Homo sapiens: one gene and its partners. The protein of the gene in region 1 interacts with the protein of each later gene in a pairwise test. Each region holds a gene or a part of one and is shown in the gene's direction. Other genes may lie near its edges. The genes, in order: TMEM11, RNASEH1, BIK and CYB5D2.

Region 1 (8,004 bases):
ATATTTATCAAAACAACAAGTGCCTACACTCTGACCCAGCAAGTTCTCGTCAGGAAATTATCCCAGTTTTATTTGCAATGGGTACCAGGAAGTGGCGCAAACATGTTTACTGCAGCACTCCTTGAAATAGTAAAAGACTGTCCAGAGACTGGCTGATACAATTATGGCATATCCAAACAATGGATTATCATGTACTGCTAAAACAAATCAGATATATACTGATACAGAGTGATCTCCAAGATACAATTAAGTGGAAAAAACAAAAACAAACAAGAAATGGAGGAATGTGCATAATATGCATCCTCTGGGCCAAAGAAAACATTTGTTAATATATGTCTACTTTATATCTGCAGAGGATCCATAACAAAGGTACCAGTTATTGCCTGCAGAGGGTTGTGGACAGAGATGGAAAGAGCCAGGTCACAAGAAGATGAGCAAAAAAACCCCCTTATTTTTCACTGTATATTGTTTTGTAATTTGAATTTTATACCATGTGAATATACTGCCCATTCAGACTTAAAATTCTACTTTTAAAATGCTCATTTTGATGCTTTTAATGGTAAATTCAAACCTTTATGTAGAACTATTATACCTAAGATATTGTTTTGGAAGATTTGCCTTTCCCTGAATGCTACTACATGCTATGAGGAATAAAAATAGGCTGAGTTTTTACTCCTCAAAACAGCCCTGCAAGATAGGCGCTGTGTGAATGGCATCTATTTTCTCCCCTACACCTGCCTTTCTATACTCTCCATGGTCAGGGCTGGAAGCCAAACAACTACATTTCCCAGACTCCCTTGTCATCTGACTCAGCCAGTGGGAGGCACTGGTGGGAGTTTGGAAGATATGAGATGGGGAAAGCAATTCTAATCTCTGGCTTCTGGTGGCACCCCAGGCCACAGCGGTGGTTCCAGTTGTGTGTCAGTAGTACCAGGCAGCAAGTGTGGCTCCAGGCTCCTGCTCAGCAGCTGAGGAATCAGTCTCTGGAAACGAATTTTCCTGTTGCTCCTCTAGCCTTGTGGGGGTCAGGCTTTGGGTGCCCTTGTTCTCCCCTTGTTTCTCATGCCCTTCCAACACCTTTGTAAACAATACCCTGTATTAAATGGTTTTTCCTCTAATTACACACTGGCTAATACAGATAAAATTACTCATATTTTACAGGTGAGAAACTGAAATTCAAATAGAGAAAGTGACTTAACCAAAGGCAAGCTAAGTACCACGCTTGTCTCATGATGCTCCAGCCACCTTGGTCCTAACCTTATTGGACCACCCCAGGCCCATCTGCACTGCAAAGCCATTGCATTAATTCGCTCTGCACAGAACATTCTGTCTTCAGTCCTTCGCATGCACACTCTTTCAAGTCCCACTCAAATGTTACCTTTTGATACAGTCGGGTTTTCGTTTTTAAGAGACAGGGTCTCACTCTGTCCCTCAGGCTGGAGTGTAGTAATACAAACATAGCTCACTGCAGTCTCAAACTCCTGGGCTCAAGAGATCCTCTCACCTCAGCCTCTCCAGTAGCTAGGACTACAGGCACGTGCCACCATACTTAGTTAATGTTTAAATTTTTTGTAGAGTCAAGGTCTCCCCATGTTGCCCAGGCTGGCCTCAAACTCCTGGACTCAAGCTGTCCTCCTTCCTCAGCCTCCTAAAGTGCTGGGGTTACAGGTGTGAGCCATTGTGCCCAGCCTTCAAATGTTACCTTTTTAGAGTGACCTCTTACCACCTGTGATCTCCAAGTCACTCCATTATATCATCCTGTTCCTTTTCTTCTTGGTACTCCTCTCTGAAAATATTTACTTAAGTTGTTTATCCCATTGGAATGTAAAGCCCGTTAAGACCCAGGAACAGTGTTTGTCTTACTAAACACCGTATCTCTGTGCCCAAGAGTACCTGCAGAGTATGCCTTCAACGATTTAAGAATGAATGAATGAAAAGTGTAGTAAGAGAAGTAGCAGATTACTTTGAGCACCAGCGAGGACATGCCTTTCCACTGGCTGCCTTCATACAGCAGGACAGAGGGCTCACGGGAGTCTCCACCGCAGGACAGCCCCCAGGAACTAATTCCCACCACTCAGGCTGTGCCCTCCAAAGGTGCTCAGCTAATACATACTGAGTCAATCAGGCTGCCTATGAACCTTCCAGACAACCTCCGTGCATTAACAGTAATCAGGAGGAAACACCGTGAGGATCTTAGACCAAGTTGGCAGATTAGAAGCAGACGGTCATTCAGAAGTTAAGGGGAGAGTAAAAAGCTGGAGAAATGGGATGTTCATTAGGGCCACAGTTGTTTCAGCATTTACATTTACTCTATGCACTAGACCTACCTCCAGTGCTTCTGGAGAGGCACAATGGCAGAGTGTAATCTCTGTAACTGGACAGTCTGGGCTCAAATCCTAGCACTTTCCTGGCTGGCAGTGTGAGCAAGTCACTCAGGTCGTCTGTAAGTTGATTTCCTCATTTACAAAATGAGATTGTTGATTAAAAAAAAAAGTGATACTATTATTAAGACAGAGTCTTGCTCTGTCATCCATTCTGGAGTGCAGTCGTGCGATCTCAGCTCACTGTAACCTCCACCTCCCGGGTTCAAATGATTCTCATGCCTCAGCCTCCCGAGTAGCTGGGATTACAGGCGTGTGCCACGATGCCCGGCTAATTTTTGTATTTTTAGTACAGACGAGGTGTCACCATGCTGGCCAGGCCGGTCTTGAACTCCTGACCTCAGGTGATCCACCCGCCTTGGCCTCCCAAAGTGCTGGGATTACAGGCGTGAGCTAACGCACCTGGCCAACAGTATCACTTTTATACAGTTGTTGTGAAAATCAAGATGTAGATCACTTAAAATATAAAACAGCACTTGGCCTCCATACACGTATCACCTCATGAAATACCGCAATCCTCTGAGGGGAGATACTATCATCCCATGATACAAACCAGGCAGCTGAGAAACAGAAGTTACACAAGCAGCCCCTGAGCCAGAAGTGCGTTCTAGAATCCCTAGTATACCCTCTGAATCACCACACTGATACAAAGAAAAGACAGCCATATCCGCAGTGTCATACCATGGAACTGTTAAGAGGTCTCCAGCATGAACTACGCTGACACTTGGAGGCAGGGCTGTATGACTCAACAGGAAGGCCAGGTACTTTTTAGAGACCAGACAGGTACAAGGTCTTGAAGGACAAAAGTTGGCTGGGAGAGCTGGGCACCGTGGCTCATGCCTGTAAATCCCAGCACTTTGGGAGGCTGAGGGGGATGGATCATGAGGTCAGGAGTTGGACACCAGCCTGACCAACATGGTGAAACCCCGTCTCTACTAAAAATACAAAAATTAGCTGGGTGTGGTGGCACCACCTGTAATCCCAGGTACTCAGGAGGCTGAGGTAGGAGAATTGCTTGAACCTGGGAGGCGGAGGTTGCAGTGAGCCAAGATCGCACCACTGCACTCAAGCCTGGGCGACAGAGCAAGACTCTGTCTCAAAAAAAAAAAAAAAAGTTGGCTGGGAGGTAAAAGCATTTTAGGTAAAGCATAGAACATCTACGTATCTGCAAACCCTCTGAATTTACTAGCCTGGCAAGTTCCAGACGGGAAAGGTAGGCAGTTGAATTTGGAGAGCTAGGCAACTTCCAAACTAAGGAGGGGCTTCTTGATTGTGCTAAGGAATTTGAATCACACACTGTAGGTGATGAGGGACGGTGAGAGGATTGCAAGCAGCTAAAACTGTGGTAGAATGTCAGCTGGAAGGAAATCGAAAGGAATCCTCAACAAGGAGAGGGTCGCCTTTCCGTCTGCTGGCCCTCCTGCTGTGGCCTGCGGCGGGGTGGGAAGGGGGGTTCCACTACACAGAAGTGTGACGCGCAGGGCTGGGCTTCTTCTAGGCTGAATTCGGGACAGATTTTCGCATTTGTTTTGCTCAAGTATTTATGGGACCAATTAATATGTTTAGCAACGTTGTCTGTGGGAGCAGTAGAGGAACTGAGAAGTTCACAAACTGTAAGAGATCCTCCAAAGAGTCCACAGGTCTGAGGCAGCAGCACCTGGGAATCTCTGGGCTCCAGTTAGTCCTTCCTGACTTTGACTCGTTACAGCAGTGTCCAGACAGGGATATGTCGGGTCCTGTGGCAGGGTTCCCGTCAGGTGGGATGGTTTAGCCCCGCATCTGCCTTCAAAGATCCCGAGATTATGCCGTCGCAGCGGCCAGGGCAGGAGTGGGTGCGTGGCAGGGACTGAGTCTAAGAGGCCTGGAGGCCCTGTCTAAAACAGAGCTGTCGCTGGGCCCTCTCGCCTTCAAGCAGTTATCATACAGCTATTCCCCTTTCTTGTTTTCAGACCCTCTCCTCTAACAGCCTGCACCTGCAAGCAGGGACCTCCGTGGCAGCAGGGACAGCGTGTCTGTCTCGGCCTCCAAAGTACCCCGGAGTCTAAGAGAACTGGGGGAGGATGGTGCGGGAGCAGCGCCCGCCTCCAAGGAGGGCCCGGGCGGCGCCTCCCGCCCCTCGGTGACCTTATGGGCCAAGGCTGTGAAGGGCAGGCGTGGCGACGCGGAGGGGCCCGGCGCTAGTAGCCCGCAGACAGCGCGGCGGCCCCCAGCGGGAGAGGCAGCCTGGCGGCCAGGACAGCGCGGCCGGGCGCCTCCGCGCAGTGCTCTGGGAGTTGTAGGCACTTGCCTCTCCTCTCTCCTTCAGCTACTGGCTCTCGAAACTCAAGGACCTACCGGTGGGTGGGCGCCTGTGACTCCCAGGCTGCGAACGCCGGGAACTCAGTTTCTTCAGAAATGCTCGAACCAGGACGGCTCCTGGAGTCCTCGCGCCCTCGCAGAAGGACTACGGGCCCCGGCGACCCCGGGGGCGGGGCTTCCGGCGCGCTGCCTTGTGGGCACGGTAGTTCCGCCGGGTCTGGCTTCCGCCTGCCGAGCGGCCCCGGACCGCAGGCCGGACTACACTTCCCGTCGGCCCGCCTGCTCTCCCGATGCCGCCTTGGCGCGAGACGTTGGCAAGCAGAGTGTCTCCAAGATGGCCGCTTGGGGAAGGAGGCGTCTTGGCCCGGGCAGCAGTGGCGGCAGCGCCCGAGAGAGGTGAGATCCAAGGGCTTGTTGCCCCCAGTGCAGGCGGCTCAGCGGCCGGAGAGCCCAGCGCGGCCTCCGAGGGCTGCAGCAGCCTTCCTTCCCTGGTTTCCCCGCGCTCCCCCTACCCTCGCCGGGCATACTGGGTTCCAGTTCCGGAGGATCCGGGATCCGGGTGGGAGCGAGGTCGAAGGCCTCGGCGGAGAGCTTAGGGGAAGGGGCGTTAGCCGGGCTGAGTAAGGTAGGCAGCGGCCATGCGGGGCGGGGCCCGAGGCCGGGCCGTGCTGAAAGGAACTGGCGCCCAGCGCAGGCCTCAGGGACCCGCCTAGCTGCCCGCGGGCCGATCGGCTGCTGAAGCACCCTTCCCGCCTGGGCACGCGCGTGGCCATCTCGGCCGCGGCCCCAGACGTGTAGAGGAAGGCAGGGCCCCCGGAGAGAGAAAGAAGGGGAAGCCTTCACAGAGCAGGCCGGCCGCGGCAGGGGTAGTTTGATCTGCACGTTTACTAGGGAGCTTTAGCTCCCGCCAGATGTGTCTCTTCCGAGCCCAGAGCCGGCCACTTCCTCGAGGGAAGATTCTGAAGACTTTTGGATGGTTCTGTGCAAGCGCTCCTGCCGTAGAAGTCCTTTAAAGTGACCTTTCCTAATGAATGGTGTGTGGGCAGGGAGCTAGGAGCGTGTTTCTTCCAACAGGGACCTCCATTTGAATAACTGATTTCTAGAAGATGAGATTGGAGTAGTTTCCGTGTTTCATGTTCAAGTTGCAGTTTTTGCATCTGGGAAGCAGTTTCAGCTAGTGGAAACCACTAGAAGCTGTTCAGCCACTAGAAATTTGGGAGAAGATGTATTGGTGGAGCCACCTGGATTAACTGTCCGCTAAAGCTTGATTGTTATAGCAGCGGTCAGCAAAAAAGGAAAAGTTTTTGTTTTGCTGGTTCTCCCCCTCCCCGTCTTTTTGGTGAGGATTGTCTAACAGAAAAGTTATCTTCCTCTCAACTACTCTGCATTATTCCTTTTCTGTGACTGATTCCATCCCGTGTTCATTGCTATTGCTTGCAGATGGCTTTCCCAGCTGGGAAGATTCTTCCTGTTTGGCAGTTGTGATAGAATCCTTTAGCTTGCTTGCACTTTATTCTTTAGCCCAGTTATCCAGCGTTGCCCATTCTGCATTTCCTCTTCCTTGGAAAAGCAGTGGTAAACACACTTTTGTTTTTCTAACTCCCGCCTGGTATTAGATTGGACCATTTAAATAAGTTACCTCAATGGTTTTCAGATGCTCTTAAAAACTAGCAAACATTTTCAAGATATTCAATGCAAACAGTAATACGAAATAACCTGTTTAGAAAACAAAGTATTAGAAACATACGCCCTCTTGTTGGACTAAAAGCATCTGAAAAGAGCCGAATAGGGATGCCTCAGGCAGGGAACAGGAGCCTTGCCAGCACAGGTTAAGCTTTTATTGATCTAAGAAAATAGATGCTGAGAATTGTTTTTGTTTTGGCTTGAGACAACTGTTTATTCAAAATGGATCTGCAAATTAGCAGTGCATAGGCTGGATCCAGTCCTTGACTGTTGAACCTCAACAGTTTTTAAGAGAATTTAAATTAGTTGCCAGCAGATTTCATATAAAACGCTCCCTGAAAAGCTGGGTAGTGGCTGACTCTTTTTGGTCGGGACAAGTGCTTGGTTCCAGTTCTTGGTTCCTCACCTGACAGCTTGACTCAAATCACCTGACAGCTTGACTCAAATCACCTGTCAGCTTGACTCAATGCATTTGCCTGCTTGGTCTCTGTAGGTGTTCAGGTTGCACCTTTGGCCTGGAACTGAAGGCTCTACTCACACACGCAGATGTTGTGTGTCAGCAGGAATGTGGCATTTGGTTTTGTAGTTTGGATGTCACCATCTACTCTCCTAGATAACGTGGTATGGGTGGAGACTACCTGTCTGTTTGCTCTTGCTGTAAACCCCTAGCCAGGTTCTGTTGGAAGAGTCATTTCCCCGAGCCCAGCTTCCCTAAGCTCTTCCCATGCTGAGCAGGGGATGGAAACATAACCCGCTGTGGGGCTAGCGAGCTGACTTCTGGGCATCCCTCCATTCCTGCTCAGTTGGTGATGACTGTTCAGGTGGGGCAGGGCGGATTAGCTGATGGCCCAGCACTCTAGATTATGAGATCTGAGTGTATTATTGGCTCTTATGACTGAAGTAGGCTGTTTATGGCTCTCTAAAATGACTTTGTTCCATGTCACATTCGTGCTGACTCAAATCTCAGCTCCATGTTATACGAGTGCTCTCTCCCGTTGCTGCTCACACCTGGTTAGCATCTGCTTTTGCTGAAGCTGAGGGAAACATTATCTGGTTTGGGGAAGGGGCTAGAACAGAGTGACACTTTGGGCACACTTGCCAGATTTGCCAGCGGCTACCAACTCTGAAGCATGCATTGTACTTAAAGGTCCCACCCAGTGCCAGACTGCCTGCAGTATTACTGCCGGCGCTGTGTGTTGGATGGTCCAGTTTAGCACGTGTAGCGTGTGGGTTCTTGCTTTACCTTGTTGAGTCTAGAACCACAGCTCTAGAATTAGTGCTGAATTAACACAGCAGTTCAGTAGTCACCAGCTACATGTGGCAATTACATTTAAATTCATTAAAATTAAGTAAAATGAAGAATTCAGCTCCTCAGTCTCACTAGCCACATTTCAAGTGCTCAATAGCCACTTCCGGCCTGTGGCTACCATATTGGACAGCATAGGTGGAGGACATTTCCATCACTGCAGAAAGTTATGATATGGACAGTGCTGGTTTCGACTAAGATAGGAGGGGTGGAAATAGCAAAATGGTAGTGCTTGCATGTTGATTTTTCTCTCCACTCCATTAAATCTAGGGAACCAACAGTGTTTGTAATGAAGAACATCAGACTCTGAGCTGTAACCTGAATTCTTGTCCAAAA
Region 2 (7,020 bases), on another chromosome or scaffold:
GACAGCCAATAAGCTGAGAGACAAGGTGTTGGGGCAAGGAAGGCGACTTTTTTCCGAGAGCCAGCAAGTCAAGAAGATGGTGGACTAGTGTCCTGAAGAACCATCTTAAGTTAATAGAACTTGAGACTTCTTTTATGTTAAGGGAAGGGGAAAGAAAGGCGGAGGTGAGATCAGGAGGAGACCGATGAGCACAGACATCTGGATGGCAGCGAGGGTCCAAGGGGATTGTGAAACTTCTCTGTCCTTGGTCAGGCCATGATGCTCCTCCTATAAGTCTTCAACATAACATTGTTATTTGTGTGTACTCCCTCTTTATCTCCTTGGGGGTTAGTTTTGGGAACGGACCACTGTCATCCTTGCTTTAAACTATAAATTCTTCCCATAGTTCACTCGGCCTATACGATACCACTATGGGGATGTTAAGGGAGAATGGAGGCAGTAATGCTGAGCCGCCTCCTCGCTGTTACAGCTGTTCATTTTTCTACCCAGATGGAAAAATCAGTTTGAGACAGAAAGCAGGTTTGAAAATATGGCTTTTTCCTTCTTTGCTGGGTTCCTGATACTTCCTTTTCTTAATTTTCCTTTTCAGTTTTCCTTTTCACAAATTTTTTGTTTTTAACCAATCAGTAATTTATTTGTATCTCAAGTCTTCCAATATAAGTATGTTTCTGTTTTTATTAAGTACTCTGACTCTTAAAGCAAGCTAGTTCTTTTGAATCTACTTCTTTAAACTTTAGAGACCTCCTAGTCAGTGACTTACGTCTATAAATTGAGATTTAGTGCCTTTAATGATTCAGATCTGTATCAAAAAGTCTTAGCCCCTTTTACAGTTTTTTGTTTTTTAACATTACATTTATCCTTATTTTAGAATTATTGAGCTATTTACTGGTTCTTATGGTTTATATAAGCTGATTTAAGGTTAATTTACTTAAAAACCACAATTTTGTGAAGTAAAACTTAACTGACAAGTGTGTTTTTTTCCTCCAAGTCTTATCTGTTCTGTAAAGTGTCCATCTCTGTTATAGTAAGTAAAACCAGTGTTTATATCCGTGTTAAGGTTCTACAAAATGACACTTTAACCTGGACCACAGTATCTGCATTTACTTCAGTAGAGTACCTAGAGGAACGTTTTGGAGATGAGTGTGTGAAAACAAAATGTGGCAGTGGAAACGCCAGCTGTTGCTGACGTCGTGCTGATCACAGTCAAGTGTTGCCCGGCGCCCTTAGGGTTCCGAGAGGTGTGGGTTGAGAAGCTCCACTAGGCTGGACATTTTCTTGTTCCTTTCTAGTAGGCGTTCTGTGATGTTCGTGCCCCATTTCTCCATCCCTGGTTTAGGAGTTGAGAGCTGGAGGTGAATCCTGTAGTGTTGGGTTAGGGTTGTTAGTTTGCAGGTAGTTGGTTGCTCCTGTGTCCTTATTTTCACTCCATGTAAGGAAAAGTCGTTTGAGATCATCTAGCCCAGGGCCTCGTTTTACAGAAGCCCAGAGGGTTTAATTCAGTTGACGGAGTTCGCAGCTGATAAAAGGTATAGCACAAATTGAAACTGGTTTTTTGAGTCCTGGTCTAATTTAGCTGTTCTACTTCAGCTGCCATAGTATTACCCAGTGAGTGAGATATGGGCCCTTCCCAGATAACCCTGAGGTGGTATTAAGAATCTCTTTGGGGCCGGGCGCAGCGGCTCACGCCTGTAATCCCAGCACTGTGGGAGGTCAGGGCAGTGGATCACAAGGTCAGGAGTTCAAGACCAGCCTGGCCAAAATGGTGAAACCCCCATCTCTACTAAAAATACAAAAAAATTAGCTGGGTGTGGTGGTGGGTGCCTGTAATCCCAGCTACTTGGGAGGCTGTGGCAGAGAACTGCTTGAACCAGGGAGGTGGAAGTTGCAGTGAGCCACGATCGCGCCACTGTACTCCAGCTTGGGCACAGAGCAAGACTCTGTCTCAAAAAAAAAAAACTATTTGGGATTAACCTTGAGGTCCCCCTGAAGAAAAACTTCGTTGCAGAAGAAAAACTTTGTTGCAAAAGAAAAGCTGCAAGAGTACTGACCCTGAAGGGACCCAGTTGCTTCCTTTTAGTTTCTGGTTTCTGTTTCCTTTTTTTTTTTGAGACAGAGTCTCACTCTCTCGCCCAGGCTGGAGTGCAGTGGCGCGATCTCCGCTCACTGTAAGCTCCACCTCCTGGGTTCACACCATTCTCCTGCCTCAGCCTCCTGAGTAGCTGGGATTACAGGTGCCCGCCATCACGCCTGGCTAATTTTTGTATTTTTAGTAGAGACAGGGTTTCACCATGTTGACCAGGCTGGTCTTGAACTCCTGAGCTCAAATGATCTGCCCGCCTCGGCTTCCCAGCCCTGTTTTCCTTTCTTAATATGTCCCATTATCTGTTTATTCAAGCTAGATGAACCTGCACCCTCTGAGCCCTCCTAGGGGTTCTTAACTTCGTGTCCATGTAGTTGTATTTGAGGCAGGGAGAGGCTGAACCATGGACACAACTCATCTTTTTTTAGATTTATCTATTTTTAAGCAAAGGGGTCTCACTATGTTGGCCGGGTTGGATTCAAACCCGGGCTCAAGCGATACTCGTATGTCAGCCTCCCGAGTAGCTGGAACTATAGGCACACACCACTGCGCCCAGCAACACCACTGATGTTATATACACAATTTTGGGCCATGTTTTTCCTGGAGAAAGAGCCCCTTGAGATGCTGTGGAGGGGATTGAGATGCTGTGGAGGGGGTGGAGGTGGTGTGGAGGGGAGGGGGTGGTGGTGGTGTGGAGGGGAGGGGGTGGTGGTGGTGTGGAGGGGAGGGGGTGGAGGTGGTGTGGAGGGGGTGGAGGTGGTGTGGAGGGGGTGGAGATGGCGTGGAGGGGGTGGAGATGGCGTGGAGGGGGTCATTCCCTCGTTTCCCTCGTTGTAGGGCCACATAGAGAGGGTGTTTTTAAGTCTGATTTAATGATACTAAATAATTTACTGAATGTCTTCATTCTCTAGCATTTCGTGTTATGTTCATTGTTTCCAGCTCACGAGTGGACTCTTGTCTTTCAGGGCATGAAAATCAACATGGACAAGAATCGGAGGCGAAAGCCAGCAAGCGACTCCGTGAGCCACTGGATGGAGATGGACATGAAAGCGCAGAGCCGTATGCAAAGCACATGAAGCCGAGCGTGGAGCCGGCGCCTCCAGTTAGCAGAGACACGTTTTCCTACATGGGTACATCTTCCTTGGGTTTTCAGATTTTAATACCACAGTCAGGAAAATGTTATGTGTAAAAGGTGTTTCCCACTTGATGGGGGGAGTTTGAGCTGGTGTTTATCATCTTCATTCTTATGTGTAAAGATTATTTAGAAATCACTAAGGCCATTATTTATAATCAAGTAGTGCAGAATTAAACTTTTGGATGTTCTTAGGAAAACCCTTACATGTAAATGAACAACTGTAATCTTTTGAAATACTAGTATTCCCTGTGCATGCAGTACTTAACGTTAAGATGAAATGCGAAGACTCCAGCTTTTTCAAATAACACCTCACACGCAGCTGCTTGTTATAATTGATTAGCACCAGCATTTTAACCTTTCATATTCAATCTTTGGAAAACAAGAGATTCTATTTTATCCTGAGAAGCAAGGTAGTAGTGAACTTTTCTGCTACCTTTCACTCCAGGAATCAGTTATGTATTTAGTGACTCACAGAATAGAATTCTCCTTTGTGTCTTTTACACATATGAGCAGAAAGTAGAAATAAGCATTAAAAAATATAAATCAGTATATTTATAGGTTCTAATTTAATTCAAGGGAAACCAGTAGAAAATGTTTTGCCAAGCTGTATTATTTATAGATATGTTTTGCAGTTACGTAAAAAAAGATCAAACAAGTATTCTTTATTTGGTGATTTACTAGTAGGAATTGAAGCAAAGATTTGTGGAGTTGCAGGGAGATGAGCCGTTTCCAGACACTGACCATTGCTGGAGGCTTGGTGGCCTGGAACATGGCGGATAGCAGGTGCTGGCTCCTGAGACAGTTCAGTGGCTGGGTGGGAAGCTTGTAGTCATGCTGATACAGTTAAGTTCCAGCTGAACGGAGGAGCCCTGCCCAACACCCACACTCCCCTTGGCTCTCAGCCCCGCTCCTGTGAGGAGCACATCCCCATCTTTGCCCCTTCGCCACTGCTGAGCTCAGTCTGCCGTCCTTCGGACAAGTACTTCCACTTCCTGCGCGTACCACCTCTATTTGCCCTCTCGCCCAGCTCTTTTAACACTGTGCAACCTGACCTCTGATCCCACCACACTACTGAAGTGTCCTGGTCACCAGTGGCCTGAGAATGCCCCCGTCAGTCCTTTTTTACCTTGTTCTTTACAGCCTTTGTGTGTCAATCATACCCTCTATCTAGAGGGAAAGAAGCAAAGACGGGAACCACACTTAACTAGCAGCAAATATGCCAGGGAAGAAATTAGACCAGCACTGGTCAGGAGACTGGGCCCTCTGGCAGGCAGGGTCACCGTCATGCTGAGGCGCTGCTCGTCTCTGGAGGATGGCTCCCTGGGAGTGAAGGTGACCCTGCCGTGGAGACAGCGCCATTGTCCTCTGAACCCACAGTGTGGGATGTGAACAGTAGTTTTTACTGCAGCAGGCTCTAGTTTTACAAGGTGATTGCCTTCACCCCGAACTTGCCTGGCCTGCAAGATCAAAATGTAAGTGGATTCCAAGCATAAATGTTAGGTGCCCCCTTGTAAGGAATGGAGCATGTTTTCCTAGAGAGAAAACGTCTGCAGCGTTGTAAAATACCCTCTCGGTTTAAAATGCTAAGTCGACCTAGTGGATTTTTGAGGTGAATTTCAGTTTTTAGTAAGGTCAGCCCAGCAGCATGTACTTCCTTTTCCCACAGGAGACTTCGTCGTCGTCTACACTGATGGCTGCTGCTCCAGTAATGGGCGTAGAAGGCCGCGAGCAGGAATCGGCGTTTACTGGGGGCCAGGCCATCCTTTGTAAGTTAAACGAAGCTGAGTTTTACTGAATCATGTTCCACAACTTGTGAAAAGATGAGGCGGGATCTGCTCATTGTTTGATTATTGGGAAAACCTGCAGATAAGTAGCTCTGGCAGGGGTGGCAGAGGAGCAGCTTTGGTTCGTGTTGGGGCTAAGCGGCATTGCTTTTCAGAACGTGAGGTACCTCAGCTTTACTTCCTTTGCTTTTTTTTTTTTTTTTTTTTTTTTTAAGACACGGTCTCACACTGTTGCCCAGGATGGAGTACAGTGGCACAAACACAGCTCACTGCAGACTTCACCTTCTGGGCTCAAGCGATCCTCCCACCTTGGCCTCCCAAACTGTTGGGATTATGGGTGTGAGCCACTGCACCTGGCTTTGGTGTTTCTTTCTTGCCCTGGGGAGGAGTCTTTTTTTTTTTTTTTCCTGAGACGGAGTCTCACTCTATCGCCCAGGCTAGAGTGCAGTGGCGCGATCTCGGCTCACTGCAAGCTCCACTTCCCAGGTTCACGCCATTCTCCTTCCTCACCCTCCCGAGTAGCTGGGACTACAGGCACCTGCCACCAGGCCCAGCTAATTTTTTGTATTTTTAGTAGAGACGGGGTTTCACCGTGTTAGCCAGGATGGTCTCGATCTTCTGACCTCGTGATCCGCCCACCTCGGCCTCCCAAGAGGAGTCCTTTTTTCAGTAGAGATGAAGTCTCACTATGTTGCCCAGGCTGGGCTCAAATTTCTGGGCTCATGCGATCCTCCCACCTTGTCCTCCCAAAGTGCCGAGATCACAGGTGTGAGCCACCACCCCTGGCCCAAAAATTGCTCATTCTTTTAGGAAACTCTGGATCTCCTGGTGACCCCAAATTTTAAATAACTTGTCTAAGGGTTTTTCTGGTTCCTTGATTTCATTTTCCTCTTTTACTTCCTGGAGGTTTTTAGTAGTTTCAATCTGAAGTCTCACTCTCTCCATTCTTCTTCCCGAGTTTTCTCCTGGGATTCTTTCTGCTGCAGCCATAGGGCCTAACCCAGGGTCCGCAGAGAACCAGCTTTTACTTCCTTTGCCCTAGTGGAACCCATGAGAGTCAGAAGGTGCCCAAGTGTGGAAACCTGTGTGCTGCTCTCTGCTGGGAGTCTGTTAGTTTGATTTTTATATGATGCTTTTATATTTCAAATAAGAATACACACTAGTTTATCGTTATCCATTAAGAAGAATCACTTTGAGAATTCACTTTATACTTTTATTTTCTTTTGTACTGTTTTGAAACAGAAATGTAGGCATTAGACTTCCTGGGCGGCAGACAAACCAAAGAGCGGAAATTCATGTAAGTTATCAGATACGTTTAAGCCTCTCTTTTTTGAGCATTGAGTATGAAATTATCAAATAAACTAATTCTTTTTTTTTCTACCTATACATATAAGATATTTGAAGAGAGACGGGTTTAATAACAATTTTGAAAAATAGGAATTTTGTAGAAAAATTCTAAAAACTTATTTCAAATAGATGTCTACACAGGAGAATTGTATGTATAGTAGTGTTTCATACAGAGAATATAATCAGTACAGAGGGGATGTTTCAATTTCGAAGTACTTTTGAACTTTAGTAATGTCAGAGTTGAACATTTTCTGTAGCATGACTATCGACTTGTCTTTTCAAGGCAGCCTGCAAAGCCATTGAACAAGCAAAGACTCAAAACATCAATAAACTGGTTCTGTATACAGACAGTATGTTTACGATAAATGGTAAGCTTTCACATTTGATTTCTTCTGTTTTTCCAGTAACTGTGAAGGGAAATTGGTAGGAGGTGTTGTAACAGGGCAGGACCCAAATGGGAACGGGGGGATGACATTGGTTTGTCAGGTACCGAGCAAAGAGTGAGGATTTTGGAGTCTCCCTTCTGCTGCTCTGATGTTTTCCACATGCTTATTTCTTTGCCAGGCACTGGAGATGCAGTCAGAAGTGGAAGTGGCTCTTACTTCTAGTCTGTGTGTGTATAAGTCACTTAAGATGGCGTGTTGACTGCTTCTTTGGGAAATGCCCTGAATAGG
Region 3 (7,772 bases), on another chromosome or scaffold:
GATCAGTCTGGCCAACGTGGTGAAACCCCATCTCTACAAAAAATTAGCCAGGCTTGGTGGCAGGCGCTTGTAATCCCAGCTACTTGGGAGGCTGAGGCAGGAGAATCGCTAGAACCTGGGAGGTGGAGGTTGCAATGAGCCAAGATTGTGCCATTGCACTCTAGCCGGGGCGGCAATGCGAGACTCAGTTTAAAAAAAAAAAAAAAAGTTTTCAGAGGATGTACAACAGCTCTGTCCATGGAGGGCCTCACAGCTTCGGAGCTGAGTCCAGGCTGGGTGTGCAGAATGCCAGCTGACGGATGTACTGCTGGCCAGCTGTGGGTCGGGGGGCAGCCTGGGTACGCCAATCAGTTGGACGGAGGCTGCAATACCTCTATTTAGGAGCCCTGGGCACTCTCGGAGACAATGGGCATTATTTTCCCTTCAATACCCCTCCGCATGGCTGCTAGATTCCAATTCCTTAACCTCTTGTTCCTTTCCAGCTCAGTGTCCTTCCATAGCTCCCCAGTACCGACAGGATAATTAGGCCACATTCACCTTTCTATTCTGGTTGGAATCCAGTCCCTTCTTTGAATTCCCCTCAAATATCTCCTCCTCCATGAAGCTTTCCCTGATATATTTGTGTCCTCTGTGGGAGCCTGGCGCTTAGTTTTCCCTTGCTTGACGCCACAGTCACTTTCTGTCTGTCCCTGCATTGCCACTGTCTTGAAGGTAGGCATTTGGCATTGTCTCTGGCTTGGCTCTGGCTTCAGTTAAGACCAAACATAGTTTTCTTCCTCTTCTAAAAAAAGATAATGTTTTTGCACGTTTATCTAGACAATCCGGAAAATACATGAAAACACAAGGCAGAAAACTAAACCACGGCTGGGAGCGGTGGCTCATACCTGTAATCCCAGCACTTTGGGAGGCCAAGGTGGGCGGATCCCTTGAGCCCAGGAGTTCCAGGCCAGCCTGGCCAACATGGTGAAACCCTGTCTCTACTAAAAATACAAAAATTAGCTGGGTGTGGTGATGCACGCCTATAATCCCAGCTACTCAGGAAGCTGAGGCACAAGAATCACTTGAGCCCAGGAGGCAGGGGTTGCAGTGAGCCAAGATCACGCCACTGCACTGCACTCCAACTTGGATGACAAAGTGAGACGCTGTCTCCAAACAAAAACAAAAACAAAAACAAAAAAACAAACTAATAGGACCAGGCGTGGTGGCTCACACCTGTAATCCCAGCACTTTGGGAGGCCGAGGTGGGCAGATTCCCTGAGGTCAGGAGTTCAAGACCAGTCTGGCCAACAGGGTGAAATCCCGTCTCCACTAAAAATACAGAAAAAAAAAAAAAAAAAAAAAACATTAGCCGGGCGTGGTGGTGCATGCCTGTAGTCCCAGCTACCCTGGAGGCTGAGACAGGAGAATCTCTTGAACACAGGAGGCGGAGGTTGCAGTGAGCTGAGATGGCATCACTGCACTGCAGCCTGGGTGACAGAGTGAGACTCCATCTCAAAAACAAAACAAAACAAAAACAAACAAACAAAAACTCAATACACCTGTATTAGTATTGAGTTTAATTGACATACCAAAACATGCACAGTTCCTAAGCATTCAGCTGTTTGCATACATATGCACCCCTGCAGCCACCATCTGTGTCACCCCAGAAAGTTCCATAATGCCCCTTCCCAGCCAATACCCATCTTCACCCTGGAGAGGGAGCCGCCAATGTCACCTCTAGCGCCATAGATTAGGTGTGCCTGGTAATGAACTTCATGATGCCCAGAGATGACTACTATTCCCATTTTGCTGTGCTATATTTCCTTCCAGACTTTCACACATGGATTTTTTTTTTTTTTTCTTGAGACAGAGTCTCGCTGTGTTGCCCAGGCTGGAGTGCAGTGGCACAATCTCGGCTCACTGCAAGCTCCGCCTCCCGGGTTCACGCCATTCTCCTGCCTCAGCCCCCTGAGCAGCTGGGACTACAGGCGTCCACCACCACACCCAGCTAAATTTTTTTGTATTTTTAGTAGAGATGGGGTTTCACTGTGTTAGTCAGGATGGTCTCGATCTCCTGACCTTGTGATCTGCCTGCCTCGGCCTCCCAAAGTGCTGGGATTACAGGCACCTGCCACCTTGCCCAGCCATACATGGATTTTTAAAGAATATAGGATTCTAATGGACACAGTGATTTATACAGCATGCCATTTCATTCAATAGATCATGCGATCATGCATCTCCAAGACAGTTTCCTTCGTGAGCTTTTTTTTTTTTTTAGACAGAAGAATCTTGCTGTGTTGCCCAGGCTGGAGTGCAGTGGCACGATCTTGGCTCACTGCAATCAAGGCCTCCCAGGTTCAAGCAATTCTCTGCCTCAGCCTCCCAAGTAGCTGGGACTACAGGTGAGTGCCATCACACCCGCTACTTTTTTTTTTTTTTTTTTGAGACAGAGTTTCACTCTTGTTGCCCAGGCTGGAGTATAATGGCGTGGTCTCAGCTCACTGCAACCTCTGCCTCCCTAATTCTCCTGCCTCAACCTTCTCGAGTAGCTGGGATTACAGGCATGTGCCACCCCGCCCAGCTAATTTTGTATTTTTAGTAGAGATGGGGTTTCTCCATGTTGGTCAGGCTGGTCTCAAACTCCTGACCTCAGATGAGCCGCCTGCCTTGTCCTCCCAAAGTGCTGAGATTACAGGCGCAAGCCACCGCGCCTGGCCTAGTTTTTTAATTTTTAGTAGAGATGGAGTTTCGTCATGTTGGCCAGGCTGGTCTCAAACACCTGACCTCAGGTGATCCACCTGCCTTGGCCTCCCAAAGTGCTGGGGTTATAGGCGTGAGCCACCATGCCCAGCCATCTCTTCCTCCTTTTGATCAGCATATTGTCTTGGGATTTTGCAAAGTAAATAAGTACTGTATTTGCACCCACTCTGCCCTTGAATCATCCAGTGTCCCCAAACGGTCCTTCTTTCTCCATCTTTTCTGCTAATGTTTACTGAACATCTCCTACATACCTGGCACTGTGCCTCCAGCCTTAAGACCCCTCTGCAAGCATCTCACATATATCAGGTCTTTCGGACCCATGAGACCCCGTGTCATTGCTTTACCTCCCTGAGTCTCAATTTTTTCATCTGCAAAATGCATTCAGAGGGAAGCCCCCATTATGAAGGGTTCCCTGCTCCTGACTGTAAGGCACTCTGTGGCTGTTAGCCACAGTCAGGGCGAGCTGCTTTGTAGGGGTTGATGTAGTTTGGAGGCCCTAGAAGAAAAGACTACAGGGCCGGGAGTGGTGGCTCACGCCTGTAATCCCAGCACTTTGGGAGCCCGAGGCCGGTGGATCACCTGGTGTCAGGAGTTCAAGACCAGCCTGGCCAATATGGCAAAACCCCGTCTCTACTAAAAATACAAAAACTAGCCGGGCATGGTGGCACACGCCTGTAATCCAGCTACTAGGGGGGCTGAGGCGGGAGGATTGCTTCAACCTGGGAGACAGACGTTGCAGTGAGCCAAGATTGTGCCACTGCACTCCAGCCTGGGCAACAGGGCTAGACTCTGTCTCAAAAAAACAAAAACAAAAACAAACAAAAAAACCCCACAAAAGCAAAGAAGGTCCAGAGCCCGGAAGGCGGGAGGGGCTCTGAAGACTTTATCACACTTTACCTCCTCTGTTCCTCCCAACAGCCCAGCTCTTGGTAGGTGCTGTTGTCCATTTCACAGATGAGAACATTGAAGGGGAAGTAATTACCCTAGAGGTGGGAAGAACAGAGTGAGGGTACCCAACAGGTAGCAAACGACAGAGCTGGGGGAGGGGAACCCCTGTCCCTGCCCCTCCCCTAATCTCTGAGGGGATCAAGACAGAAGTAAACAAGCTTTGCCGTGCCCAGGACAATTGTTACTTTGTTATTCCAGGAGCGCTCTGCCTTCTCCCACCCCCAATATACCCCAGGGCTGGAGTTAGGTCCTACCCATCCCCGCGTAGCAGGCTGCCCACCCGCCCACCCCGCCTGGAAGCTTTCTGATTTCTCTGTTCGCCCCGCCAGGCGCTGTGGGGTCCGTCTCACCAGGTCTGCACGTGAGCCCCCTGCCCCCAATCCCTCCCAGTCCCGCCCGCCTCTCGCGGACCCGGAGCCCCGACGGGAGGGGGAAGGCAGTGGGTGTGTCATGCAGCTGGAAGGCTGCGGACGGGCGGCAGTGGAGGGGCAGCCCCCTGGCTTCGGGTATGGATCACTGGATGCTGCTGCTAACCAAATGTGAACCTCGGTTTTCATATTTGTGAAATAGGCTTTAAAACACCTAAATCCCAAAGCTGCCAGCCTAAGGAGCACACGTCTTTGAACGCTGGCTTCACGCTGTCATTTAAGTCATTTCGTCCTCTTGGAGCCTCGGTTTCCACGTGGGTAAAATGATCGTGAAAAAAAGCACCGAGGAGTACTTTGAGCTCGAACGGAGGCCATCCGTGTAAAGGGCCAGATTCTGTCAATGGATCGATCCCCCCGATATTGATGGAAACCCCTGAGTGCACGCCCGTGCTGGGCGCAGGGGAAACAGCGACGCACGGGACAAAACAAGCTTGCAGAACAGCAGGGGGCAGAGAGGCTGTAAACAAGCCAACGGGCTGCACTTGTAGCGGTTCTGTTGCCAATGCCATTCAGACCCCAGTCCGGGATTCCGCGCTCGGGGTGCGAGAGGCCGCTCCCGGGGAGGGGCGGGACCCGGGCGGGGCGGGAGGGGCGGGGCGCCCGGGCCTATTAGGTCCCGCGCCGGCAGCCGGGCCGCAGACACGAAGCCTCCCGGGTGGCTTACAGACGCTGCCAGCATCGCCGCCGCCAGGTGAGTGCCCCCGACCCTGCTGCCGCCCGCTGCTCCGCCCAGCTCGAGCCCGGCGGTTAGCGCCCAGGCCGCGGCCCGGGTGCCGAGCGGCTGGAAGTGTGGGGAGCCGTGCCCAGGTTTTACCGCTCCAGCAAGTCGCTGGCGGGGCGACGTCTCGGGACTCCGGCTCCGAAACGTACCCTCTCTGTCCGGGGCTCCAGGTCCCCGACGGGCGATCGTGCCAGGCGCGGCCCCTGCGGGCCTCAGTCTCCGCGCCTGTGCAATGGGGTGGTCCCTCTGCGTCTCGCCGCGACGGCTGGACGCCCCATCGCCGCCGCACAGTCCTCCAGTGCGGCTTCCGGGCACCCGGCTCCGAACTCTGGGGTCGTGCGGACCCGGCCAGACCGTAGCGCGGCAACGCCAGCCCACGGCCGCGGCCGCACAGCCCCGGTGCCCTTAAAAGAGGGAAGATGGCGTCGTGCCCGGTGCCGCCGGGACCGGCTCCCGGAGGCGCTGCGCACCTGAGGAAGGGCCGAGGAAAGGCTTCGTAACGGGACGCCCAGAAAGTCCGGAACAGGAACGTGCACACGGAGCGGCGCGCAGCCGCCCGCCCTCGCTTGCCCACGCGCCCTGCACAGGTGCGCCCCAGACTGGGCGGGGACTAGAGCCCGGCTGGGGCATGCGACCTTGTTTGGTAAATTGGAGGTGCGCCCCTGCGGGTGACCCGCGAGGGGGCCCCCCGCCTGCGGGGCGCGGTCACGACAAGGCTTGTGGGGTTCGGAGCTGGTCGTCGTCTGGGCTCTGGCCTCCTAAATGCGATCGCTTTCAAGCCCTTCATTGTCAATTTTGCTAGAATGAGCCACTCGTGGGGTAGGACGTGGTTGTTGATGTTACTGTTGTAGCTCTTACTATTGTAACATTTTTGTTGCTGTTTTAACGCAGTGTTTACTGTGGTCTGGGAGCCCGAGCTTCCCAGGGAGCATTGGTGTCAGCCTCATGTCCCCGCATTAGGAGGAGCGCAGTCTGGTGGGCACTAGCGCCGGGAAGTTCTTAACATCTGTCTGCCCCTGGGAGCAGGAGGCCTCATCTTCCAGGTGGAGAAACAGAGATTTCAGTCCCAGGAGGCACAGAAATGCCAGGGTTGTCTAGCTAGAAGCCAAGGGCCCTTTATGGAACCCAAGCCAAAACCTCTTTCCACTCTCCAGCCCTGTGGCCTCGGAAGGGCCACTCCATCTCTCTGAACCTCAGTTTGTTCTGTTCACTCTGCAAAATGTATCCCTGAGGTTTCTGGCCAGGTGAAAGCCCCTCTCAAGTTAGTAGCCTCCCTGGAGTTAAGACTCACCCCGATTTCTACTTAATTTGGGCACGCCTTTGGAATAAGTTCTCAGGAATGGCACAGTTTGGGTGTTTTTTGTTTCTTTTTGTTTTTTTTTGAAACAGAGCTTCGCTCTTGTTGCCCAGGCTGGAGTGCAATGGCGCCGTCTCGGCTAACTGCAACCTCGGCCTCCTGGGTTCAAACGGTTCTCCTGCCTCAGCCTCCTAGTAGCTGGGATTACAGGCGCCTACCACGAGGCCCAGCTAATTTTTTGTATTTTTAGTAGAGATGGGGTTTCACCATGTTGGCCAAGCTAGTCTCGAACTCCTGACCTCAGGCGATCCACCCGCCTCAGCCTCCCAAAGTGCTGGGATTACAGGTGTGACCCACCCCGCCCGGCTTGAGTGTTTAAATACTCCTGCCTCAGCCTCCCAAGGTGCTGGGATTACAGACGTGAGCCCCTATGCCTGGCCCTTTTTTTTTTTTTAATTGTCTTAAGGATGTTAAGACTAAGATTCTCACACATTTGACTCGTGCCTGTAATCCTAGCACTTTGGGAGGCTGAGGCAGGAGGATTGCTTGAGCTCAGGAGACTAGACTGGGCTAGACCAGACTGGGTAACATGGTAAAACCCTGTCTCTACCAAAAATACAAAAAATTAACCGGGCATGGTGGCATGTGCCTCTGGTCCTAGCTACGCAGGAGGCTGAGTTCAGAGGCCTACCTGAGCTTGGAGGGGTTGAGGCTGCAGTGAACCCTGATCATGCCACTGCACTCTAGCCTGGGAGACAGAGTGAGACCCTGTCTCAAAAAAAGGAGCATTAGGCTGGGCATGGTGGCTCACATTTGTAATCCTAGCACTTTGGGAGGCCGAGGGAGATGGATCACCTGAGGTCAGGAGTTGTGAGACGAGCCTGGCCAACATGGCAAAACCAGTCTCTTTTAAAAATGCAAAAATTAGCCGGTCGTGGTGGCGTGTGTCTGTAATCCCAGCTACTTGGGAGGCTGAGGCAGGAGAACTGCTTGAATCTGGGAGGCAGAGGTTGCACTGAGCGGAGATCACACCATGGCACTCCAGCCTGGGCCACATAGGGAGACTCTCTGTCAAAAGAAAATTTAAAAAAGCATCAAATGGTAGATCCCCAGTGTCTGTTACAGCTTGGGTACTCTATGGCTGGATAGAGAGGCTGCATACATGTTAGTTATTGTAAGTTTGTTTGTTTTTTTGAGACGGAGTTTCGCTCTTGTTGCCCAGGCTGGAGTGCAATGGCTGGGAATACAGGCGTGAGCCACCTCACCCGGCTCAAGATTCTTACACATTTGACTTGCCTGTAATCCCAGCACTTTGGGAGGCTAAGGCGGGAGAATTGCTTGAACCCAGGAGGCGGAGATTGCAGTGAGCAGAGATGGTGCCACTGCACTCAGCCTGGGCTAACGTGAGACTCCATCTCAAAAAAAAAAAAATTACGTCTTGTGTCACAGAGCTGCAGATAAACCAGAGACTACTCATAACCGTGTACTTTTTTTTTCCCCCATTTCTGATCCCGTCTCAACGGAAGGATGTAATTGAGGAAGGGCTTGATTGGCCAGTGAGTCTTGAAGCTGACACCACTGCTGGTGGTATTTTCCCCTCTCCCTGGAAAGCATCCTGTTTTTAGTGAACCTATTAAAT
Region 4 (7,099 bases), about 17 Mb from region 1:
TTATAATAAACCATGCGCACCTTCTCCCTGGACCACACCTACCATGAGAAAAGGTGTGTTGTACTATAAAATGATAATGTTTCAGACTTTGGTCCATGGTCCAACTCCAAGAACTTCTTTATAACACCTCCTCAAATAACTGAGGTCACAGGAATGTGAAAGCAAGACAGCTGCGTGGACACCAATGGCAGCGTAAGTTGGGAAGCCAAAGAAGAAACATGTAACACTTGGAAACTCTCAGCATTATAATAAACCATGCGCACCCGTGGCTATCTGTTTTACCATGTTAGCTCTTATAAAAACGAATGACGGAAACAACTTGTCATTTTAGTTGCTACTATAAAGACATTACTTCACAAGCCCTTCATCTTGCAGTAAAATACAGCAGTATATTCTCAAAAGCTTAGACGTAGATTAACAACGCAGAATTAACTGTGTAAGTATGCACAAAAGTATATACTTATTCAAGTCTAAGGATAGACATTCTTAAAGCACAGAATCAAATGCATGGCTAAATCTTATCTTCTTTGGCTAGTCCTAACTTACTAGTTCTTACAGACAGAGCAGCCATCACAAGATTATCATGAGAGACGGTGGCCACTGTGAGATTATCACAATCAGGTTTTTAAACCTTGGCTAAGCCTCACTCACAGAACTGTATGACCTAGCTATGTGAATCAAAGACTGCCAAATATAACTCAATGTTTTCTCTCCCCTTCCTCAATAATTAAGCCCTGAGTTTTAGCTGAATATATGGCCACGGAAAAAGAATCTTTCCCAGCCTGTCCTGCAGGTAACTGCGGCCATGTGACTGAATTTTGGCCTGTGGGATGTAAGCTATGCCCGTAAGAGAGTGGGCATGGCTTCTTCCTTCTCCTTCCCTTTTCCCTTTCTTGCTTGTTGGAATGTGGAAAATGACAGCAGGAGTCAACAGAATTACTAAGTGGAAGATGTCCGTGGAGGATGACAGCACAAGATGGACGAAGCCAGGTCCCTGATGATGACAACACTGCCACATCAATCTTGGACTGCCTACCTGGACATTTTCATAAGGAAGCAGCTTCTTTTTATGTTTAAACCACTGATGCATTAGGTTTTCTGTCCCTTGAAAAAGTTTTGTGTATCCCTAATACACCACACCAGACTTCTTCCAGATTCTCTGGACTTTGAACTTTTGTGGATACAATTTCCTCTGCCTGAAACGCTGTTACTACCTCCTGTAACACTATCTGCTTTCACCATTCACCTGTGGGCTGAAATGTTACCTTCTCAGGTAAGTCTTGCTTGAGCCCCAAGTGAGGTTAAATACACTTGCTATTTATTCCTTATACCTTCCCCCTCGGTTAACACTCACCATATCTTATAATTAATGGGTTAATACCTGTCTCTTCCACCACAACTACATACTCTTTAAGAGCAAGTATCTGCTTTGTCCACTGTCATCCAAGTGAGTGGCACTCGATATACGCCCAATAAACATTTGCTCAGTGAACAATAATGCCACAACCCCTGAGTGATTTCTGGACCACACCTCAAGTATTTCTTGACCTTCTATTAAGGGACTCCTATGAACTCTACATAAAGTTCTATTTCTGTCAGAAACTCTCAGAATGTAAACGGTGTTTCTCTCCATTTGCCTTTGCTCAAATCTGCAAAGTGCCATCTCCTTCAACAGTTCTGCATGGTTCTTCCCACTACTACTTCATATTCTCATAATACGCGTAGATACTAGAAAGAAGGTACTATGTGTATTCCTGGGGGGAAAAAAAAAGGAGATCTTTCACTAACTAATATGACTTTTTTTTTTTTTTTTGAGACAGAGTATCGCTCTGAGGCCCAGGCTGGAATGCAGTGGCGTGATCTCAGCTCACTGCAACCTCCGCCTCCTGGGTTCAAGCGGTTGTCCCACCTCAGCCTCCCAAGTAGCTGGGATTACAGGCACCCGCCACCATGCCCAGCTAATTTTTGTATTTTTAGTAGAGGTGGGGTTTCACCACGTTGGCCAGGCTGGTCTTGAATTCCTGACCTCAGATGATCCTCCCGCCTCAGCCTCCCAAAGTGCTGGGATTACAGGCGTGAGCCACTGCGCCCAGCCATGACTATTATTTTTAAGGGTTGGGATGCCTTAAAGGTACTTTTTTCATAAGAAACACACAAACTACATTATCTGAATTCTGGCCATGTACAGGAAGACATTCTTAAAATATTTTAAAAGCCTCTGATTTTAAGGTGAACAGAACCTTTTAAAGGCACTGCAAGTACCCGCTGGTTTACTGCTTTATGTACACACCCTTCGTGGCCACTGAAGATTCTACATGACTGGCTAACTCATTTTCACAAAATAAGTACCTTTTTGGTCATACCGTGGTGTTAAAAGAAATAGGATCCCAGGAAGGAGGTAGTGAGACATTAAAAACAAAAAATAGGGTGCGGGTGGAGGGAGAGAGAGCATCAGGAAGAATACCTAATGGATGCTGGGCTTAATACCTGGGTGATGGGATGCTGTGTGGAGTAAACCACCATGGCACACGTTTACCTATGTAATACATCTGCAAATCCAAATCCTGCACATGTACGCCTGAATTTAAAATAAAAGTTGAAAGAAAGAAAAAAAAAAAAAGCAAGAGATCTAGTTGATAGTCTGTTTTACTAATGATTCACTGGGTAACCCTGGATCAGTCTTCTTAACTCGAAGTGAAGCGCCCAGTAAATAAACTCCCAAAATGCCTTCCAAGGAAAATATTTTGTTGCCAAATCAATTTGCTCTCTTAATGACTTAGCAGACATGATCTTGGTGATTATATGAAGAACTGCATAATTACAAGTATTCACAGGAAACCTGGTATTTGCCTATCAGTTTCGGATCCTATGAAGGTTTAAATGAGTCTAATATATGGTTCTTTAAGGATCTACAAACCAGTATGTATTTTAGAAAAGCTAGTTTTTGCATGAGGAGGATAGGTTTTAGAATGTGAGCCTTTCCAGCATGTTACTACTGTCTTTCCACACTTATTCGGCGCCCACACTGAATTGGGAAGGTGCTGTGTAAAAACCTGGACAGGACAATACAAAAAATGGTTCTCAGCGCCACTCCTCCTATCCTTACATCTCTTTTCTCTCCAAACTGTTCGAGAATCTGATAGAAGATCTCCAGAGTAGCGTCAATCAACTGCACAAAGGTCTGCATTACAACATACAGAGAGAGACATATGGGCTTGTCCAGCTCTTCAGAGCAAGGACGGCCTGATGCAGACTTTCCAGACCTCTAACATAGGTTAAAGAGAAACGAAGCAAACGCCTGGTGAAAAGCTGGAAACACCTCATATGGGTCCCCGCCTGGCCTCTCCAAAGCAAATGCCCACCTCTTCCTTCAGTCCCCTGGGGGCGACCGCCCTGCCCCATCCCCGCAGTCGCCTGCCGGCCCTGACCTCCTCGAACTGCTCGCTAGAGCAGCCGGCGCCGCGAGCCTCCAGCAGCTCCCGGAACTGCTCCAGAGTGACAGACTCTTCGCCGCGGCCCAGCCGCTCTTCCAGCCAGCGAAACAACGCGCCGCGATGCCTCGACACCAGCGACTCGCAGGGGGGTGTGGGCAGCAACGCTGCAGCAGCCTCTCGCAGCCTGGCCGGCTCCAGCAGCGCCGCGGCGGGTGGTAGCGCTGGAGCCGCGACGCCCGGGCCGGGGGTCGTGCCCGAGACCGCGGCCCAGTCCTGGTGTGGGCCCCAGCCCTCGCCACCGGCAGCTGCCGCTTCGTCTTCACTGCTGTGACTCGGAGCGTTCCCCATGGGGTCTCCGTCTTGGGCGCCTGGCTCTGCAGCCGCCGCCGCCGCCTCCCCGCCTCGACCTGTCAACCTCCGACAGCAGCTGGCGGGCGGGGACGCGGAGGAGACGACGGCGGCCCCTGCGGCTTCCGGCTTCCTGGCCGTCAAGCGACGACCGCTGTCGCAAAGGCGCCGTCACGTAGATAGGCGGCCTCTACCAACTCACGACAGCTAGGCGGGGAGCGCCGCCTCAAAGGGTGCAACCTTGATTTCCCAGAGGACGAGTCTGTCTCAGTATCTACGTCATTCCGTAGCCTCCGCTGCCGCCATCTTTGTTGGGGCTGACAACCTGCAAGCCAAGAAGTACGAGAAGGGCCAGGCGCGGTGGCTCACGCCTGTAATCCCAGCACTTTGGGAGGCCGAGACGGGTGGATCACCTGAGGTCAGGAGTTCGAGACCAGCCTGACCAACGTGGTGAAACCCTGTCTCTACTAAATACAAAATATTAGCCGGACGTGGGGGCGCGTGCCTGTAATCCCAGCTACTTGGGAGGCTGAGGCAGGAGAATCGCTTGAACCCGGGAGGCGGAGGTTGCAGTGAGCCGAGATTCCGCCAGTGCACTCCAGCCTGGACAACAAGAGCTAAAACTCTGTCTCAGAAAAAAAAAAAAAAAGTACCTGGAAAAAGTCGCAGACAGCGAGCTTTTCGCCAGTGCCAGGAATACAGATAAAACGAGAGAGACTAAGGGAGGGAGCGCGAGCACTAGCGCGCGAGAGAGAGAGCGAGAGCGCGCGCGCCGATGACGTCACGCTCGGCGTCTCGGCCATCTTAGCTGTAGATAGAGGCGGCAACCTCGGAAGTGCGGAGCGGGTGGGCCTATATAGATGTTGAGGTGCGGAGGCCGTGGGCTTTTGTTGGGCCTGGCTGTAGCCGCAGCAGCGGTAATGGCAGCACGGCTTATGGGCTGGTGGGGTCCCCGCGCTGGCTTTCGCCTTTTCATACCGGAGGAGCTGTCTCGCTACCGCGGCGGCCCAGGGGACCCGGGCCTGTACTTGGCGTTGCTCGGCCGTGTCTACGATGTGTCCTCCGGCCGGAGGCACTACGAGCCTGGGTCCCACTATAGCGGCTTCGCAGGTATCAGCGAGGCTGCTCACGCCTTTCTCTCCGCTGGCGCGAGCCAGTAGCCACCTGCGCGTCGTTCGTTGGTTCATTATTCATCTATTTCCCCCCCCATCCCCACCCCACATCCATCAAACCCGTGCGGTGGGCGGGACGAGCTGCATGCACTATCCTTCTAGGCTCTCTGGCTCTGGCGGGACTGTGGGCCAGCTCTGTCATCCACCACCGCCCTGCGTGACTTACATTGGAGAAACATGTCTTCTGTCTCTTGTTACCCATTACCCAGCGTCGGAAGCCCTAGGATACGGGCTGTGTGCCGGACTTTTGTGGGGGCTCTTAGGGCACAGATAAACGAGATCCCGCCCCGCCCCTACCCTCACAGTTTCCTTAATAATTCCAACCATCTCTTCATTATGCCCTGGTCCCAAATAATCTTTCTTCCCCCCACCCCTAAGCATAGTGTTTTCAAGGTTCATCCATGGTTTATGAGCATGCATCAATACTTTATTCCTTTATGGCCCGTCATATAGTACATTTGGTCTGAGTCATTCCTGCTTCTAGTACAAGATGCACCTGTTTGCCTTCCTTAGAAGGTTAGGGCAGAGGAAAGGGGTCCAGTCACCTTTACAGTCCTTGATACGTAGACCAAAGTTGTGCATATGTTAGGCCTCAAGAAACATTTGTCAAATTAAGTTTATGCTGGTGTCCCTGTGTTACAGCTGAGGGGGTTAAAGGATGCGATTTGCCTGAAACCCTCACACCTGAATACTGACAGAATATGGACTCGGACCACCAGTCTAGTGCTTTTTTTTTAAAGATGGAATCTCGCTGTGTCGCCCAGGCTGGAGTGCAGTGGCCTGATCTCGGCTCACTGCAAGCTCTGCCTCCCGGGTTCACGCCATTCTCCTGTCTCAGCCTCCCGAATAGCTGGGACTACAGGCGCCCACCACCACGCCCGGCTAATTTGTTGAATTTTTAGTAGAGACGGGGTTTCACCATGTTAGCCAGGATGGTCTCGATCTCCTGACCTTATGATCCGCCCACCTTGGCCTCCCAAAGTGCTGGGATTACAGGCGTGAGCCACCACACCCGGCCAGCCTAGTGCTTTTTTACAGATGTTGCCTTGCCAGCCAGCGGGACTGACCTCCAAAATTTAAAAAGAAAAAAAAAGTGCAGGGCAAGCCTAAGATCAGCTACTAGGCTGACATTAAATAAGCATTTTCCACTTGTCATTATCTTAGGGGAATTGGGAAGCTGCCTCTAGCACTTAAAATACAAGCCACTTCCCTCTGTCTAGGAAGTACTAAAGAAATACAAAAGTTGACAGAAAAGGAATGAAGTCCAGTTGGTCTCGCAAATCCCCTGAGATAGTCCAGCAGGGGAAGGGACTTACTCAGGGGTACACAGTGAGTTAGAAGCAGAGCTGGGACTGGAATCAAGGTGTTTTGTCGCTGCTAGTTGAAGGCAGTTTTCGTTGCGCTGCCCTGCTGCGTGCTGTGGGAGCTGTCGTTGGATGTTTGCACAAGTGTGGGCATAAAACCTTCGATGTCTGGAGTGCTTTTTATTTTTCAGTGTGCTCTGCTGTTTACTGAGCTCCCGTGTTCTGGTATTCATTGACCATCTTTATTTACCACTACCTACCTTGTGTCAGGGGCTGTGGAATCCAAGATGTCTGCAACATGCTCCCCACCGCCCACACAGTCTAGTTGGGAAGCAGTTATGTCCACGTATTCGTTCATTCAGTATTTTATTTCTCATTGAGATGTAATTCACGTGATGTAAAGTCCTTTTAACGTATACAATTCAGTGGGGTTTTTTGTTGTTTAGAGACAGGGTCTGCCTCTGTCACCCAGGCTGGCGTGCAGTGGCATGATCTTGGCTCACTGCAACCTCCGCCTCCCAAGCTCAAGCAATCCTTCCACTTCAGCCTCCCAAGTAGCGGGGACCATAGGTGTGCACCATCACGTGCAGCTAATTTTTGTATTTTTTGTAGAGATGGGTTTTCGCCATGTTGGCCAGGCCGGTCTTGAACTCCTGAGCTCAAGTGATTCAGCCGCTGAAAGTGTTGGGATTACAGGTGTGAGCCACTGCCCCCAACCTTTTTATTTATTTATTTTTATTTTTCGAGATAAACTGGTTCTTTAGCCCAGGCTGGAGTGCGGTGGCGCAATCTTGGCTTACTGCAACCTCTGCCTCCCGGGTTCAATATTCTTGTGCCCCAG

The links.
Region 2: the proteins of TMEM11 (region 1) and RNASEH1 interact in binary tests that used the Homo sapiens proteins (3 or more experiments, as listed by UniProt).
Region 3: the proteins of TMEM11 (region 1) and BIK interact in binary tests that used the Homo sapiens proteins (3 or more experiments, as listed by UniProt).
Region 4: the proteins of TMEM11 (region 1) and CYB5D2 interact in binary tests that used the Homo sapiens proteins (3 or more experiments, as listed by UniProt).

The regions. Positions count from the first base shown.
Region 1 is NC_000017.11:21,211,162-21,219,165, reverse strand, and holds the start of TMEM11 (transmembrane protein 11, mitochondrial), read left to right. Parts: upstream 1-5,004; 5' UTR 5,005-5,013; coding exon 5,014-5,075; intron 5,076-7,938; exon of another isoform or gene 7,939-8,004. UniProt on the Homo sapiens protein: Plays a role in mitochondrial morphogenesis.
Region 2 is NC_000002.12:3,548,334-3,555,353, reverse strand, and holds part of RNASEH1 (ribonuclease H1 isoform 1 precursor), read left to right. Parts: intron 1-3,045; coding exon 3,046-3,210; intron 3,211-4,881; coding exon 4,882-4,981; intron 4,982-6,241; coding exon 6,242-6,296; intron 6,297-6,629; coding exon 6,630-6,714; intron 6,715-7,020. UniProt on the Homo sapiens protein: Endonuclease that specifically degrades the RNA of RNA-DNA hybrids.
Region 3 is NC_000022.11:43,105,998-43,113,769, forward strand, and holds the start of BIK (bcl-2-interacting killer), read left to right. Parts: upstream 1-4,752; 5' UTR 4,753-4,806; intron 4,807-7,772.
Region 4 is NC_000017.11:4,139,114-4,146,212, forward strand, and holds the start of CYB5D2 (neuferricin isoform 1 precursor), read left to right. Parts: upstream 1-4,083; 5' UTR 4,084-4,642; coding exon 4,643-4,892; intron 4,893-4,997; exon of another isoform or gene 4,998-6,746; coding exon of another isoform or gene 6,747-6,954; intron 6,955-7,099. Other genes in the region: ZZEF1 (zinc finger ZZ-type and EF-hand domain-containing protein 1), read right to left, coding at 3,429-3,782. UniProt on the Homo sapiens protein: Heme-binding protein which promotes neuronal but not astrocyte differentiation.